4 linked regions of the Homo sapiens genome follow. The protein of the gene in region 4 purifies or fractionates together with the protein of the main gene of each other region. This does not show direct contact. Each region holds a gene or a part of one and is shown on either strand. Other genes may lie near its edges.

Evidence for each region.
Region 1: the proteins of FARP1 (region 4) and TAB1 purify together in Homo sapiens (affinity purification with mass spectrometry, with the first as the bait; one large-scale study listed by BioGRID). This does not show direct contact.
Region 2: the proteins of FARP1 (region 4) and MRPS35 purify together in Homo sapiens (affinity purification with mass spectrometry; one large-scale study listed by BioGRID and IntAct). This does not show direct contact.
Region 3: the proteins of FARP1 (region 4) and MTNAP1 purify together in Homo sapiens (affinity purification with mass spectrometry; one large-scale study listed by BioGRID and IntAct). This does not show direct contact.

The regions. Positions count from the first base shown.
Region 1 is NC_000022.11:39,423,571-39,427,346, reverse strand, and holds part of TAB1 (TGF-beta-activated kinase 1 and MAP3K7-binding protein 1), read right to left. Parts: intron 645-3,776; coding exon 422-644; intron 1-421. UniProt on the Homo sapiens protein: Key adapter protein that plays an essential role in JNK and NF-kappa-B activation and proinflammatory cytokines production in response to stimulation with TLRs and cytokines.
Region 2 is NC_000012.12:27,738,123-27,741,898, forward strand, and holds part of MRPS35 (small ribosomal subunit protein mS35 isoform 1 precursor), read left to right. Parts: intron 1-3,776.
Region 3 is NC_000017.11:73,238,724-73,242,499, forward strand, and holds part of MTNAP1 (mitochondrial nucleoid-associated protein 1), read left to right. Parts: intron 1-3,377; exon of another isoform or gene 3,378-3,520; coding exon 3,521-3,628; exon of another isoform or gene 3,629-3,699; coding exon of another isoform or gene 3,700-3,709; intron 3,710-3,776. Other genes in the region: CPSF4L (putative cleavage and polyadenylation specificity factor subunit 4-like protein), read right to left, coding at 3,700-3,709. UniProt on the Homo sapiens protein: Critical regulator of mitochondrial DNA (mtDNA) abundance. Binds dsDNA throughout the mitochondrial genome without sequence specificity and controls mtDNA copy number by promoting its replication.
Region 4 is NC_000013.11:98,449,556-98,454,961, forward strand, and holds part of FARP1 (FERM, ARHGEF and pleckstrin domain-containing protein 1), read left to right. Parts: 3' UTR 1-3,617; coding exon of another isoform or gene 3,618-3,654; 3' UTR 3,655-5,406. Other genes in the region: STK24 (serine/threonine-protein kinase 24 isoform a precursor), read right to left, coding at 3,618-3,654. UniProt on the Homo sapiens protein: Functions as a guanine nucleotide exchange factor for RAC1. May play a role in semaphorin signaling.

The sequences.
Region 1 (3,776 bases), on a different chromosome or scaffold from region 4:
GTCCCTTCATTCTTCAGCCTCAGTTTCCCTCTCTGGAAAACAGGGGTACCACCTGTCTTTAGGGTTGCCCATGAGGACTGAAGGGAATAAGGCAGGCTGTGTGCCTGGCACAAGGGAGGCACTCAATCAGTGGTGGCCATCATCTCTATTATGTGGCTTCAGGGCTCTGTGAATTGCTTGCTGGGGCACTCAGGTTCTGGGAGGTTGCCGGGGCAGGTGGTATTAACCTCATTTTACAGACAAAAGAGCAAAAATCAACACTCAGCTCAGAGAGGCTAAAAATCAGAGAACCTGAATTAGAGCCACTCAGAGCCAGGCCTCCTGACTCCATCTCCGTTTCAAGCAGCCTCGGGGGCTCTGCACCCACCTCTGGCCCCCAGATGGCATCCCCAGGCACTGCCTGTCTGCACAGCACACGTACCTGGGGCTGGGCTCGGTGTGGGCTGGCTCATTTCGCCCAGCGGGTAGCCAAAGTTCCTCACTAGCAGGGTCATGTCCTCGTGCCGGGGGCAGAACCTGGCACGCTCCCCACCACTGGCGAAGGTGTCGCTGTGGATGCGCTTCACCCGGTCCACGACGGCCTGGGCCACTGCGTCCAGGGAGGTCTGCTTGGCAAACTCAGTGTCAATCATCGCAGCAATCTCCTGGGGGAGGGGGTAGGAAGAACCTGGTAAGGAACGAGGTGCGGCCTGGGGGGCATGGGCCATAATCTTGGAGCCTAAAATCAGGAGATTCAGTGGTCAACAGCCCAGCAGGTGAAGGAAATGCCTGCCAGCCAAGTTTGCAATCTGAGCCTTTCAAGGTATTCAGGATAATCCTTCTGGAACTTTCTCATTAGGAAGTGTGTGCTCTTGTGATTGCTCTAATTGTTGGGTGCACACCTCTAGGATGGGGAGAACATCCATTTGACTGGGTGAATACGAGTATTAACTAACAGTGGTGTGAGAGCACTCTGCCAGCCACTAAAAAGCCTAGTAGCAAGTGTCATTATTATGAAACACTCTTTCCTGGAACAAACTTGTTGTAGGCGATGTTATACATGCTAGGATTTTGTCAGGAACTGGGGATACAGAATGAAAACAGGGTCCCTGACCTCAGAGAAGTCCCTGTCTAGTATACAGATGTTCCTCAATTTAGGATGGGACTATGTCCTGACAAACCCACTGTAAGTTGAAAATATCATAAGTTGACCGGGCACAGTGGCTTGCGCCTGTAATCCCAGCACTTTGGGAGGCTGAGGTGGGAGGACTGCCAGAGGTCAGGAGATCGAGACCAGCTTGGCCAACATGTTGAAACCCCGTCTCTACTTAAAAATACAAAAATTAGCTGGGCATGGTGGCACATGCCTGTAATCCCAGCAACTTGAGAGGCTGAGGCAGGAGAATTGCTTGAGCCCAGGAGACGGAGGTTGCAGGGAGCCGAGACCAGCCTGGCCAACAGGGCAAGACTCTGTCTCAAAAAAAAAAAAAAAAAGAAAATATCGTAAGTTGAAAAAGCATTTGGCCGGGCGTGGTGGCTCACACCTGTAATCTCAGCACTTTGGGATTCTGAGGCAGGCCGATCATGAGGTCAGGAGATCGAGACCATCCTGGCTAATACGGTGAAACCCCATCTCTACTAAAAATACAAAAAATTAGCCGGGCGTGGTGGCGGGTGCCTGTAGTCCCAGCTACTCGGGAGGCTGAGGCAGAATGGCGTGAACCCGGGAGGTGATCAGTAAGCCCAGATCGAGCCACTGCACTCCAGCCTGGGTGACAGAGCGAGACTCCATCTCAAAAAAAAAAAAAGAAAAGAAAAAGCATTTAATGCACCTAATCTACTGAACATCATCACTTAGCCTAGCCTACCTTAAATGTGCTCAGAACACTTCTATTAGCCTACGGCTGGGCAAAATCATCTAGCACAAAGCCTATTTTCATTATTATATAAGAAAATGTTGAATCCCATGTAATTTTTTTTTTTTTGAGACAGAGTCTCACTGTGTTGACCAGGCTGGAGTGCAGTGCTGTGATCTCAGCTCACTGCAAGTTCCATCTCCCAGGTTCAAGAATTCTCCCGCCTCAGCCTCCCGAGTAGCTAGGATTACAGGCGTGCGTCACTATGCACCAGATAATTTTTTTTTTTTTTTGTATTTTTAGTAGAGATGGGGTTTCACCGTATTAGCCAGGATGGTCTCGATCTCCTGACCTAAAGTGATCTTCCCGCCTCAGCCTCCCAAAGTGCTGGGATTACAGGCGTGAGCCACCACGCCCAGCCGAATCTCATGTAATTTATTGAGTACTGTTTTGACAGTGAAAAACAGAATGGTTGTAGGGGTATGGGAGCACAGTTCCCACTGAATATGTATCACTTTCTCACCATCATAAAGTTTCTTTTGGGCGGGGCAGGAGGGCAGGGACAGGTAATAGGAAATGACCTGCACCTGGTCCTGGTGGGCTCAGTTTCAACACTAAGCAGCAACGTCACTTCTGGCAAGAACCTGAACTCCGTGGACCCCAAATTCCCTACTCTACCTGGAAATAAGCCCCTGTCCCTCTATGTTATAAGGCTACTGGAAGGAATGGTAAGCTTATATAACAGGTAAAGAAATCAGAACACAGGCTGGGCGCAGTGGCTCATGTCTATAATCCCAGAACTTTGGGAGGCCAAGGCAGGTGGATCATCTGAGGTTACGAGTTCAAGATAAGCCTGGCCAAAAAGGCAAAACCCCATCTCTACTAAAAATACAAAAATTAGCCGGGTGTGGTGGTGGCACATGCCTGTAGTCCCAGCTACTCAGGAGGCTGAGGCAGAAGAATGACTTGAACCCGGGAGGTGGAGGTTACAGTGAGCCGAGATTGCACCACTGCACTCCAGCTTGGCCAACAGAGCAAGACTCCATCTCAAAAAAAAAAAAAAAAAAAAAAAAGAAATCAGAACACAGGGAACAGGGGATAGTTAGGCACTTGAGACTTTTTCGAAGTAGATCTGCATTCAATCCAGCAGTCTGGGCATCTACCTAAAGGAAAATAAGTCATTATATGAAAAAGATACTTGCACACGTATGTTTATAGCAGCACAATTCACAATTGCAAAGATGTGGAACCAGCCTAAGTGGCCATTGACTAATGAGCAGATAAAGAAAATGTATCTATAAACTATGGAATACTACTCAGCCAGTAAAAGGAAAGAATGAATGTCTTTTGCAGCAACTTGGATGGAGATGAAGGCCATTATTCTAAGTAACACAGGAGTGGAAAACCACAAACTATGTTCTCACTCGTAAGTGGGAGCTAAATGATGGGAATGCACAGGCATACAGAGTGATATAATGGAACTTTAGAGACTCAAGGCGGGAGGATGGCAGTGGTGCTAGGGATAAAACACTATACATTAGTTACAATGTACACTATAAAACACTATACATTAGTTACAACGTACACTATAAAACACTATACATTAGTTACAATGTACACTATAAAACACTATACATTAGTTACAATGTACACTATAAAACACTATACATTAGTTACAATGTACACTATAAAACACTATACATTAGTTACAATGTACACTATAAAACACTATACATTACTTACAATGTACACTACTGGAATAACTGGTTTACTAAGATCTCAGAATTCACCACTACATAATTCATCCCTATAACAAAAAAATACTGGTACCTCAAAAGCTACTGAAATAAAAATTAATTTTCAAATTTTAAAGAAGACTTTTTCCTCATGATATTGATTGATTGATTGAGACAGAGTCTTGCTCTGTTGCTCAGGCTGGAG
Region 2 (3,776 bases), on a different chromosome or scaffold from region 4:
GAAGTGTTTCAGACTTTAGATTTTTTCAGATTTTGGAATATTTGCATATTAATATATAATGAGATATCTTGGGGAGGGGACCCAAGTCTAAACAGGAGATTCATTTATGTTTCATATACACTTTATACACATAGCCTAAAGGTAATTTTACACAATACTTTCAGTAATTGTGTGCATGAAAATTTTGACCGTGCTCCATCACATGAGATCAAGTGTAAATTTTCCATTTGTGTGTCATATCAGTGTTCAAAAAGTTTTGGATTTTCAAGCATTTCAGATTTTAGATTTTCAGATTAGTAATGCTAAACCTGTATTTAAATAATATTAAAAATACTCGAGTCTGAATTTAGAGAGTTTTCATGTAAGTATGTACATTTATAAGGAAGATTTTGCCATGCTTGAGCAACACCTCATCTGATTTGAAGTTGGTAGCCAATATGTTTAGGTAACTCAAAGTTTGAAACAGTAATTTTTAAAATTAAAATAATTATAGGTATGCATTTAAATTAAATTTTTTGTGCCTTACCCAACACAGGGGACTCAATAGCATTTCATACTAGGAACATTCAAAGGAATAAAGTTAGCTGGAGAAGGGGGTCATGTTCTTTAGAAAGGACTTCATATGTCAGTGTCTACAGAAACAGTGAAAAAAGGAAAAAGAAGTAAAGAAAAATAGAAAAAATAAAAGTTTTCATATGGAAGAGGGCTTACATTTGTTTTTAATGACTCTTAGAGATACAACAAGGTAGCGACAATAGTAAGACAGAGACAGACTTTGGTTTACTGAGAACTTTTTTTTTTTTTTTTTTAAAGTCTCACTCTGTTGCCCAGGCTGGAGTGCAGTGGAGCGATCTTGGCTCACTGCAACCTCCGCCTCCCAGGCTCAAGTTATTCTTCCCGAGTAGCCAGGATTACAGGCATGCACCACTACCGCCTGGCTAATTTTTGTATATTTAGTAGAGACAAGGTTTTGCCATGTTGGCCAGGCTGGTCTCGAACTCCTAACCTCAGGTGATCCACCCGCCTCGGCCTCCCGAAGTGCTGGGATTACAGTTGTGAGCCACCATGTCCAGCCCTCCCAAGGGGAACTTTGTGAGAGAGCCATCATAAGATGCAATGAGCTACTTCAGTAGGTAGAAAACATTCCATCCATCGGCCACTTAGTGAAGATAGGCAAAAAAAATATACTCCTTGAATAGGTAGTTAAATTCCATGGCCTTTGGAACCTCCTTTCAGCCCAAGTTACTGTGATTCTGTGAATACATGCAGCTGTTCTCTAAACTGCTCACAGCTTTTCCTTCATATTATGATAAAAGAGTTTTCACACAAGAGGATGAATGGAAAGTGAAAGAAAAAAACTTGGTTGTGAGATGAGTAAAAGACAAAAAGTAGCTGGTAAGCTCTTCTCTTCTTTACAATTATTTCCATTATTATAATTTATCTGGATTTTCTAGTTCTGGCTTTAAGAGCAACATCAGAATAGCAGTTAATCTCTTTCCTACACAATTGATTTTAGAAATGCTGTTGGCTTAAGATAATTAAGTTTTCTTTTGAACCAGCAACATGGCTGAATTAGCTACAGCTTTATGGCTGTTGCTGCTTAAAGATTTAATAACTAACAATAAATACAACCCGTTTTGACTTTCTTATTTTGCCAGTATCTATTAGAATGAATTTGCCCAGAAGGAAATGATAGGCATAAATTCAGTGGAAGTTGATTTATGGGATTCTTTCTGTGGTTCCGTGACTTAGAATCCAAACAGGGTTGCATTCTGGATTCACACAGAAGCCTTTGATCTTTAGTGCTGATTACTTTGATGCCAGGATAAGTAGCCACATACAACTGTCCAAACAAGTATACTTGAAGAATTCTATATTACCGTTGTTTCTTGGTGCTTTCTAAACAAGTACCATCAGTGAAGAAGATTTTGAATACAGATGAGCCGTGAAATTTTGCGGAGCTGCTAGAAAAGAATTTTTATTGAATTGAAATTCATTTTCCCTCACCAACATGGAATTCATACTTGAAATTGATGTTATCACCGTTATTTAATCAAATAGAGAGCCTCTTTTTAATCCATTGCTTGATTTTTTTTATAGGCTAGCTTCTGAGCATTTAATACCCAAATATATGCTTCCTTTGGCTTTTTTTTTTTTTTCTTCGAGTCAGGGTCTTGCTTTGTTGTCCAGGCTGGAGTGCAGTGGTATGATCATGGCTCACTGCAGCCTTGGCCTCCTGCGTTCAAGTGACCCTCCCACCTCAGCCTCCTGAATAGCTGGGACTACAGGCGCATGGCACCATGCCCAGCTAATTTTTGCATTTTTTTTGTAGAGATGGGATTTCACTGTGTTGTCCAGGTTGGTCTTGAACTCCTGGGCTCAGGCAATCCATTCACCTTGGCCTCCCAAAGTGTTGGATTATAGGCATGAGCCACTGTGCCCTGCCTTCCCTTGGCTTTTTAACCTTCCCCTAGAGGTTACCTCTAAGTAGCACTGAGGGGAAAGTAGCTGCTAATTTTATGTAGCTTGTAGTACTGAAATCCCTCTGGAGAAGTGATCACCTAGACTCCAGTAGAAGGATATTACTGTTGTATACTATTCAAAACAGTTTAACTATAGAAGTGTCAAAGTAGATTTCAGTAAGCATAGACATCGCAAAGCCTAAGCTTCAGGCATAAAGGCTTAATACTGCCTCAAAGAATAATTATTTCAGTGCTGGGAAGGTGATAAGAGACACATATTCACTGGACCATTCATTTATCCTTCAGCAGTTTAAAGAAGCAAGGAGGCTGGGAGCACTTTGGGAGGCAAAGGCAGGCGGATTGCCCGAGCTCAGGAGTTCGATACCACCCTGGGCAACATGATGAAACCCCGTCTCTACTAAAAATACAAAAAATTAGCCAGGCATGGTGGTGGGTGCCTGTAGTCCCAGCTACTCGGGAGACTGAGGCACAAGAATCGCTTGAACCCGGGAGTCGGAGGTTGCAGTGAGCCAAGATCGCACCACTGCACTCCAGTCTGGGCGACAGAGTGAGACTCTGTCTCAAAAAAAAAATAATAATAATAATTAAAAAATAAGCAAGGAGAGTTGTAGAGATTTGGTGTCCTATTTTAGTATTACGTATTGTTAGCATTGGAATGAATTTTTAACCTTTGGAGCCAGACAGACATGGATTTGAATTCCAGGGCCATTACTTAGTACCTGTGTAATAGCCTCGACTATTTAACCTCTGAGGTTCAGTTTTTTCCTAAGGATTTTTGGATGGATCAGGGAGAATTTGTGTAAAGTGTCTGGCAAATAGTGGGCTCTCCATAAGCATCTATAAATAATGTTGATATTAACAATAATAAAATGAGGAAAGATTTTTTTCTTAGAATTTTAAATTCATGGTTTCCCAATTTCTATTAATATATACAGCTTATATTTAATTTGGCAGAGTTTGTACAAGTAAAGTCAGATCTATACTCTTTAGGATGTGTATCCTACTCACAATTTGACATAATTGATGATAACACAACTTCCTTAATTTTAACTTTTTAGTGATTTTTTAATAATTGAAACCTTCCGTAAATGATTAGGTTGAGAAATAATGAGTCAGTTTGCAAAGTGACTTGCACAAAAGATGAGCACAAATACTGGGGAAGAGAAAAAAAACAGTTGCTTTAGAAAAGTTAGAGATCTGAAATCAAATTTCAGAGATTCATGGGTGATTTTGATATTGAATTACTAATGGTTGCTTTTTTACATTTTAAAATTTCGGCTGTCTTATTTGGAT
Region 3 (3,776 bases), on a different chromosome or scaffold from region 4:
GTGAATTTATCCTATTTTGTGGATGATGAAACAGGCACAGAGAGCATAAGTGATTTGTCCAAGTTTGTGTTGCCAATAAATAGTAGAGCTGCAAGGAGAACCTAGTTTCCTGAGGCCTAGTTTAATCTTTTCCACTAAACCATGTTGTAGAAAATACACCATAACTAAAACCATGTTTGTTATAGTGCCATACTTTTCTGTGTGTGTGTGTGTTTTGTTTTTTTGTTTGTTTGTTTTTTGAGACAGAGTTTTGCTCATTGCCCAGGTTGGAGTGCAGTGGTGTGATCTTGGCTCACCTCTGCCTCCTGGGTTCAAGCGATTCTCCTGCCTCAGCCTCCCAAGTAGCTGGGATACAGGTATGCGCCACCACGCCCGGCTAATTTTGTATTTTTAGTAGAGATGGGGTTTCTCCGTGTTGGTCAGGCTGGTCTTGAACTCGTGACCTCAGGTGATCTGCCCGCCTCAACCTCCCAAAGTGCTGGGATTACAGGTGTGAACCACCGTGTCCAGCCTTCTGTGTTTTTCAGTTGCAGATGCACACACTCCCCCCATGATAAATCTCTCTACCAAATTGAAGGACTTGTGTATTTTCTGTACTACATTTTATAGTGCTTAGGAGTGTCCTTGATACACACTTTTCATTTTAGAGGAAAAAGTGAGGGACCTGACGTTTATCTGTGATGACTATGACTATCGTTATGCTAGATACATTATGTCATTTAATCCTCATAACAGCTCTGAGTGACACCACTGTCCCACCCTCTTATTCCTCTTGAGGAATCTGAGCTTCAGACATCTTTTTTTTTTTTTCTTGAGACAGAGTCTTGCTCTGTCTCCCAGGCTGGAGTGCAATGGCACAATCACGGCTCACTGCAACCTCCACCTCCCAGGTTCAAGCGATTCTCCTGCTTCAGGCTCCAGAGTAGCTGGGATTACAGGTGCCTGCCACCACGCCCAGCTAATTTTTTTTTTTTTTAAGTAGAGATGGGGTTTTGCCATGTTGGCCAGGCTGGTCTCGAACTCCTGACCTCAGGTGATCCTCCCGCCTTGGCCTCCCAAAGTGCTGGGATTACAGGTGTGAGCCACCAGGCCTGGCCTGAGCTTCAGACATTAAGTGACTTCCCTATGTTCATGCAGTAAGTGACAGAATCAGGATTCAAACCCAGGTTCGTCTGACTCTACTAACTATTCCAAACAGTGAACCTCAAGTTGAGTTTAAAGACCACAGATAGAAGAGTCAGGTGAACCTGGAGGTATTAACTACTAACTCTCCCAAACAGTAAGCCTCAAGTAGAGTTTAAAGACCACAGATAGAAGTCAATACCTTGTTTGATATGTTATTGATACATTTCACTGTTAGCTCCTAAGAATACAATAATAAGATACAGTAACTTAAAACATTAAATTACCAAGGTTATGAGACAGGATATAGGAGGGAAAATAGAATTTTTTCTTCAGTAACAAGTTCCTTCCAAATAGTGGTGAGAAACTATTTTAATCCCTTTTATTGCTCATAGTCTGTAACTAATAAATGTTGTACTTAGTTTGGGACTTCTACATCAAGACAGTAAATAAGGTGTAATCATCATAGGGCCTCTACTTCTATTATAAACTGAAAAACTATTGAAGTTGGATCCAGGATCAGTGTTCAGACTTTGATGTTACCACCAAATGAACACAAGATACTAGAGGAGAGAGACCCTAGGATCAGGTCAAGCCCTGATCCCTCCATTGGCCAAGGACTTCAAGGCCATATCAATCTATAGGGATTAAAAGATGGTGCCATTGGCTCCTTAAAAAGCTTTGTAATTTCACCAGGCAATGACTGTCTCCAATGACTGCAAATTAGAGTTTTATTGGAATCTTTGCACAAGAGAATGGGCTATACCTTTTCTCACTCAGGCAAGACCTTTGATAGGTCATTTGCCCTTCTCAGGAAGCCAACTCATTCCTTTGGTACTTAAAAGGCAGGGCCAGTGAGCTAACAGTTACTGAATTAACTGCAGGTCAGGACAGTAGGCTCACCTGACTGGAGAAAGCAGGGCAAGGTCAGGGAGCCACGTGATCCTGACACTGCTGACAACATGGTTGCAATTTTCAGGAAGTTGTCTCTTTACACCGTTTTCCTCAAATTTTTTCCAAGATGAATGGGTTTTTTTTTTAAGAGACTAACCTTCACCTTGCAAGAGAATTATCTTCTGTGCAATTTCTTGGAAGCCAGCATGATTCTTTTCATTGTTCTTTAATGATCATTTGGATATTTTTACATCCACAGCAACTTTTACCACACTTGCTAAACCTGTTGTCGGTGTTTAATTTCTTCTTTATCTTGATGAACCAAACCAAGACTAGAGAACTATCAGTAGTAGAGATTACCTGTCATAAAACATGGAGAAAACCATGTACAGGAGAAATGTGATTAAGGAGCATAAGCCCTCTTTTTTTTGTTTTTGAGGCAGAGTCTTGCTCTGTTGCCCAGGCTGGAGTGCAGTGTAGCGATCTCTGCTCACTGCAAGCTCCGCCTCCTGGGTTCACGCCATTCTCCTGCCTCAGTCTCCCGTGTAGCTGGGACTACAAGCGCCCGCCACCACGCCCGGCTAATTTTTTCTGTTTTTTAGTAGAGACGGGGTTTTACAGTGTTAGCCAGGATGGTCTCAATCTCCTGACGTCGTGATCCACCCACCTCAGCCTCCCAAAGTGCTGGGATTACAGGCGTGAGCCACCGCGCCCGGCCTGCATAAGCCCTCTTTTCTGGTTCTGCTTAAGTTATTCATGCACTGAACATAAATAGGAAATGTTTGCTGGCCAATAATAGCGATAGGGTGATAGAACAGGCATGTTGACTGTGGGCAAGTCACAATCATAAAAGGAGAAAGTCACGCTTTTAGCTGACATGTTTAGCAGATGATAGAATATGTAAAAGAGGCCAGGCGCAGTGGTTCATGCCTATAATCCCAGCAGTTTGGGAGGCTGGGGCGGGCAGAACACATGAGGTCAGGAGTTCAAGACCAGCCTGGCCAAAGTGGCGAAACCCCGTCTCTACTAAATAACAAAAATTAGCCTGGCGTGATGGCGTGTGCCTGTAATCCCAGCTACTCGGGAGGCTGAGGCAGGAGAATCACTCGAACCCAGGAGGTAGAGGTTGCAGTGAGCCAAGATCATGCCACTGCACTCCAGCCTGGGCGAGAGAGTGAGACTGTGTCAAAAACAAAAAGATGATGTAAGAGACTCACTTCATGAAGCACATGCGCATCAATCACCTGGCCAGGGTACTCAGCAGACCAAAAAACAAGTAGACGCCCTGATTTTCAGGGGTCCCTTGGCCTTTTGAAAAACATTTTTTCAACCTGTAATTGATTTGACTTTCAACACTTAGCTGCAGTCCAATGCAGAAATCTTTAATGCACCTGTTTAGAATATGCTCTTCCTGAGGCTTAGCCGTGGATCCTTCGGCACTGGATGTTAGGGAAGGGGGTACGTTTCGGTAAACAATGACAGTGACTTCTGTTTGGAACCATAGTTTCTTTGTTGGAACGAAGCTCAACTCATATAAGGAGTTTGGAACCCCCTGCCGGACTTACAACCTCCAACTTCTCTCTAATGAGGCTCTTGGGAGCTGTACAAAAAGGTGAGGCTGGAGTTTGACTGTTGTCTTCTGTTGCAGGTTCTGGGCATTTGGAAAAGTTTCTCTTCGGGCTGTTAAGCAAGGCTAAAGAGGAGAGGAAAAAAATGTTAAAATGTGTGTTGTCTTCCTAGTTTTCCATTTGTCTGTGTTC
Region 4 (5,406 bases):
AGCACCTGCCCACCTGAGAACCAGGAACGCACCCTCTCTGTGGAGCTCTGACTGGTGTAGCTGGAAACAAACAGCAACTTGCAAACGGACGAAGAGCCTGCCGTGTGTTAATCATTTGCCTTACAAGATGTACCAGACGGTTTCCAGTACTAACAAAGGGAATAAAAATACCTCACGCCACAATCCAGCATATTGATGTTTTAAGGCAAAACAACCAACTTTGTCTGTAGTCTTCATTTTCTGTGTGGGGGGGGAGGGGGGAAGGGGACACTCCAGCAAGGGTTTCTAAAGCCCCAGTGTTCAGAGTGACACAGGGAGGGCCTGCCCCCCACTGTTCCCTATGCTCCCCCCACCTCCAGGCAGGGGCAGAGCAAACAAACAGCTCCGGGCCACACAGCAGCATCAGGCTCCCTCCAGAAGTCACCACTCACTCATTCCTGGAGACTTGGGGACAAGGCAGTCTCCTCAGCTATTTATTTCTGAATGATTGATTGATTCCAAACTACTTGCTGGACACTGGTGGTTCTGACCTGTGACCAGCACCTCTGCTTCCTGTGTGCCCTCAAGAAAATACTAGTGTGGGTAACAGTCCATCTGAGTGGAGTTTGAGACACACTACACATGAGACACACAATGATGCAGATACTCGTTTTCTTGAGCTTTATTGGCCCCTGCATGATACAGTCCCTGTGCTTAAGAACATGCCCTATTAGGTCACTCTGCCTTTGCTGACACATTTTATAGCAGAAATACACAAGCTGTTTTTAAAGGAGGGAAATATAAAAAATGTTTATAAACTGACAGTGTTTTGCCAGAGGAAAGGTACAAAATGCTACATACAGAACCAAACCAGCCACTTCACAAGAGCAATGCAGGGATAAAACTATTGGATAAGGAAGGCAGATGCACTTCCAAGAAAATCAGAACCCAGCAAGAAGTGGCCAGTGCACCCCAAACCACACTGGTGTCCACCTCATTGGCAGCAGCCAGCCAGGACACAGCTCAAAAACGCAGGAGCTACCAGCCACCCAGTCCACGGCCCTCGTCTCCCAGAGGCTGAGTACCTCCCCAGGCTGCAGGCTCTGGGCAGCTGAGCCAGGAGCAGCTCAGGGCTGGCACTGAGAGGCTACTGGTGACAGTAAACCCGTCTCAAAGGCTGGGCCTGGCTACAGACCAGCAGCAGTTGACGCTGAGGCAGGTTCCAGTGGTAGCCCTGGTGCCTGGGCTCTCTCTTAATGCAGGCCTGGAAGTGGCGACACAAAAGCCAGCTTCCTTGGCTAAGATGCCCTTAAAAACATTGGGGCTGATTTTGTGCGTCTACAGAAAGTAACAGCCCAGGAGAGAATGTACACAGAGGCGAGCTTTCTAACTCCATCAAACCCCACCTCCCCCGACAGGAAATGCTGCCAGTCAACTCTAAAAGAACCACTTGTTGCTCTACGGGGGAAGGGGCTGAGTATGATTTGTCTGGCGACTGCAGAGACTCCCCGTTCATACCAGTATTCATTAGAACCCAGTCCCTCGAGCGGCTCACCCACTGTTACTAGCATGAGACTGGCTTCAGTGCTAAAAACTGTGATGTCATTGTCCATTTGTAAATCTGAAGAACTCTGTAAATCAGAAAAGCTGCTGTCCGCCCTGGCTCACTTAAAAATCAGGTAACGGCACACCCTGGGGAACACAGACTCAATCTGTGTGATTCGCAAGGACAAAACTCATCTTTGACTTATGCCGCCGGCCTCACGTAAGGAAACAGTTCCCCACACAGAATACTCCCTGGAAACACAAAATGAAATCTTCTCCAATTTTATTATTCAACATAACATTCTTGTATGGAGTAATGAGTACAATAAGAATTAGCAACTCAGTTCTATTTCCCCAACCAAAATATATCCCTTATACAAATTAAGAGTTCAACCCAAATCCACTTCTAATAAAATACCTCAATTTTAGAGCTTAAAAACCAGACTGCACTAGCAAACCGACACAATAACCCACTCAAGCATCTGTAGCTCAGGGCTCTGTCCCCTCCCTATAGCTTAGAGGCCACTAGACCAGCAGATAGCTGAGCTACATCCCCAAGCTCACCCACTAACTTCCTTGCTTCCAAAAATCCTGTCTTAACTCCACAAGAACTGGCACACCCACGGGAGATGTCAATCATCAGCTTCAACAAACATAAAAGAATGCTTCATGTACCAGTCAACAGCTGCTGCACGAACCCTCCCACTCCAGAAACCCAGAGATTTTCCCCCTCGCCAAGCAAGGTCCCACAGCAAACCAAGAAAAACAGACACACTGGCTGCCTGCCTAGCAAGCATAGGCCCCTTCCAGAGAAGCAAAATAACTCTTAAGGTCCCCGGCAACCGCTACAGCAATCGCACAGATCAGCAACCTCCAACTGCATCATCTCGGTGAGCAAGTGCGCAAGCAGTCCAGGGCGCTGACCTGGGCACTCGGCAGCTCCAGGCCTGGGGACTTCTCCCTGGAGTCTTCCAAAGTGTCTCATCACACACACACAGCCACGAGTACACACGCACGGCCACACATACACAGCAGGTGCCCTGTCCTCTGAAGAGTCACATTTCAAGGAGTATGCAAAATAAGCGTGTTATAAAATTTATTTGTGTAAGCATTCAGACATTTTTAGGTGGGAAAGATGATATGCAGAATCCACTACAAGGTGCAACAGAAAATCGTATTGGAAAGGACGGTACATCTGGCGCAGACCAGCAGTGGCACGATTCCAAACAAATGTCAGACGAGAGCGCTTCATGGGGAGAAACTGAAAATTATAATTTAAAGCTTCATGAGGCAAGATATGTTCCAATTTAAAACACTAAGAAATAGTACCATCGATGAAAAAGGAAATCAACCTCTAGGTGTACCAAAAGGGGCGTAGGGCAAACGGGGAAAATTTGCATTTGTTGAGGTACAAATAGGAGTGTTCTGTAAGAGAGGGGCATTAATTATTAATGACAAACCCTGCAAATACAAAATAAAACCCAAATCACTGGTCACAGAATTCAAAATGTACATGTAATAAAGGCAAGGCAATAGACTCAAGTTATGGCCTGTCGAATATTTACTCCACTGACGTTATCTACAGAAGCACTTGGCCAGTTTGTACACAGTGATTCCTTATGCACGCCGAAAGGGTTTCCGTAAAAATGACATTATATACAAATCTGTACACCCATCCACCAGAGCGATTCTCCAGCTCCCAGAGGGAGTTATCAACTTAAAGCAGGATACCTGAGGTTTCATGTCTTTAGTTGCCTTATCATAATCCCAAATATACATTTCAGGGTTTGTTTTTGTTTTTAAAGACACTTTCCTGGAATATGTGCACTATGGTTAAAATTAAAAACAAAAGTAATAAAATAAAATAAAATGATCGCTGGAAGGAGCTGACCCTCCCCACCCATCTGAGAGACTTCATCTGGCTGCAGCACAGTGAAGACTGTGTGTGTCCCTGGACGGGCGCCTGGCGCTGGGGTGGCTCCCAGTGGCGCACCTCTTCGGTGGAGTCAGCGAAGGCTCTCGTTGACTTTTAAAAAAGGAGGAGGATGAAGAAGGAAAAAAGGAAAAACAAAACCCCAAATGCCAAAGGAATTTCAGTGGGATGAAGTTCCTCCACCACTTAGAGAGTATCTAGGGAAAAAGAGAGAGAGAGAAGTCAACACATGTCATTTCTCATCCCTGTGCAAAAATTCATATAGTAACCAAAATCTTAGTTTTCATAAGAAATTCCAAGTCATACAAAAATAAGTGGAGCAAATATCAATGTGTAAGTCTAATTTTAAAAGAATGCATATAAAGACTGAGAAGATCATGATTCTTACACAAAAACTCCAGAGCATGTCACCAAAAACCAAGAATGGGTTCAGCCTCCCTGGAGAGATGTGAATAAAACGGGAAATCATATCCCTTTTACTTACGATCAATTGTCAAAAAGTGAACATTGATCCATACATGATGACACAGTAAGATTCCAGGGATGCATATGCATTCCCGATGTGAGGGCAGGAAACCCATTTTGGCCATAAAAATAGTGATGCAGTCCAAGAATCTATTTCCTAGAACTGCTTCCGAAATATGGTCCAAAGCAGGAACAACGTGTCTGCACAAAGATGTCTCTCGGGATTTTCGTAATTACACTAATTTGGAAACAACTCTGATGCCCAACAGTACAGAATCAGTTAAGTAAATTATACAAACTGAAATAACAGACTAAAAATGGTAATTATCTGTATTTACATATATATATTAAAGCAATATTAAAAATATGTACAAGTTTAAAAGTACATACAAAATTACAGATTGGGCATCCCTTATCTGAAATGCTTCTGGCTTTGGATCTGGGAATATCCGCATTATACTTACCAGTGTGCAGCCCCAAATCCGAAATCTGACATGCCCCAGAGAGCAGTTCCTTTGAGCCCCATGCTGGCGCTCAAAAGTTTCAGATTGGGGATTTGGGATATTCAGCCTGTATATGTGCACTATATAAGTATATTTACATGAACAACTTCTGTATCCTAAATTAAGTACTATAGAAATTCTAAAAAATCTTCTTTGCACTATAAGGTAGATAAGAGAATTCAGTAAGTTTATGACCTGGTATGACAACAGAAGGCAATGCACCCAAAGATGCTGATGAGATTTGGGCTACAGTGGTGGGATCATGGGTAATTTCTGTGTCTTCCAAAAATTCTACAAGATTGTCTTCAGAAGACAACAAAGGGTGAGAACGGGGTCCCCTCATGACCACAATTCCCTCAACCATTTTACAACAGACTCCAAATCACAGGTCCAGGAGAGATGGCTGAGGATGTCTTTGACCAGGCTTATCTCAAACGTTCCAATCTAGAGCTCCTCTTTTCAGGCATTTGAAATACTTGGCATCTCTCCCAGAGAACAAATGGTTACATAAGGTCCTCCCAAAAGCACACATTAGCCACGGAGCCTAAGACTCAACTATCAAGAAATACAAATGACTAAATCACGGGATGAGTTGATGTCACACAAAAGAATCCAAACATTAATTCCAGCTGAGACAGAAAGGCTCTGAAAATGCTTCAGAGGAGAGGCGGCTCTCATTTTTCCTACAGCCATCCACTGAAACAACATGTTTGGAGCAAAACTGGCAGGAAGTCTAAGCCATGGCCACCGTGGTTTTGGCAGCCATCGGGGTGAACGCTCAGTGGGAGCTTCAGGAGCAGGGAAGGAAGAAGTGGGTACCACAGCCAAGCCTGCAGAGAGATGATAAGCACCTCAAGAGGCAGCTCATCTGAGGACAGAGGAGGAAAGAGGGCACTCCTCATCACAGACAAAGGAAAGAGAGCACCAACTTGGCTTCCCCCATGCATCACTGCAAAGTAAAGTTTTAAACACAACACAGAC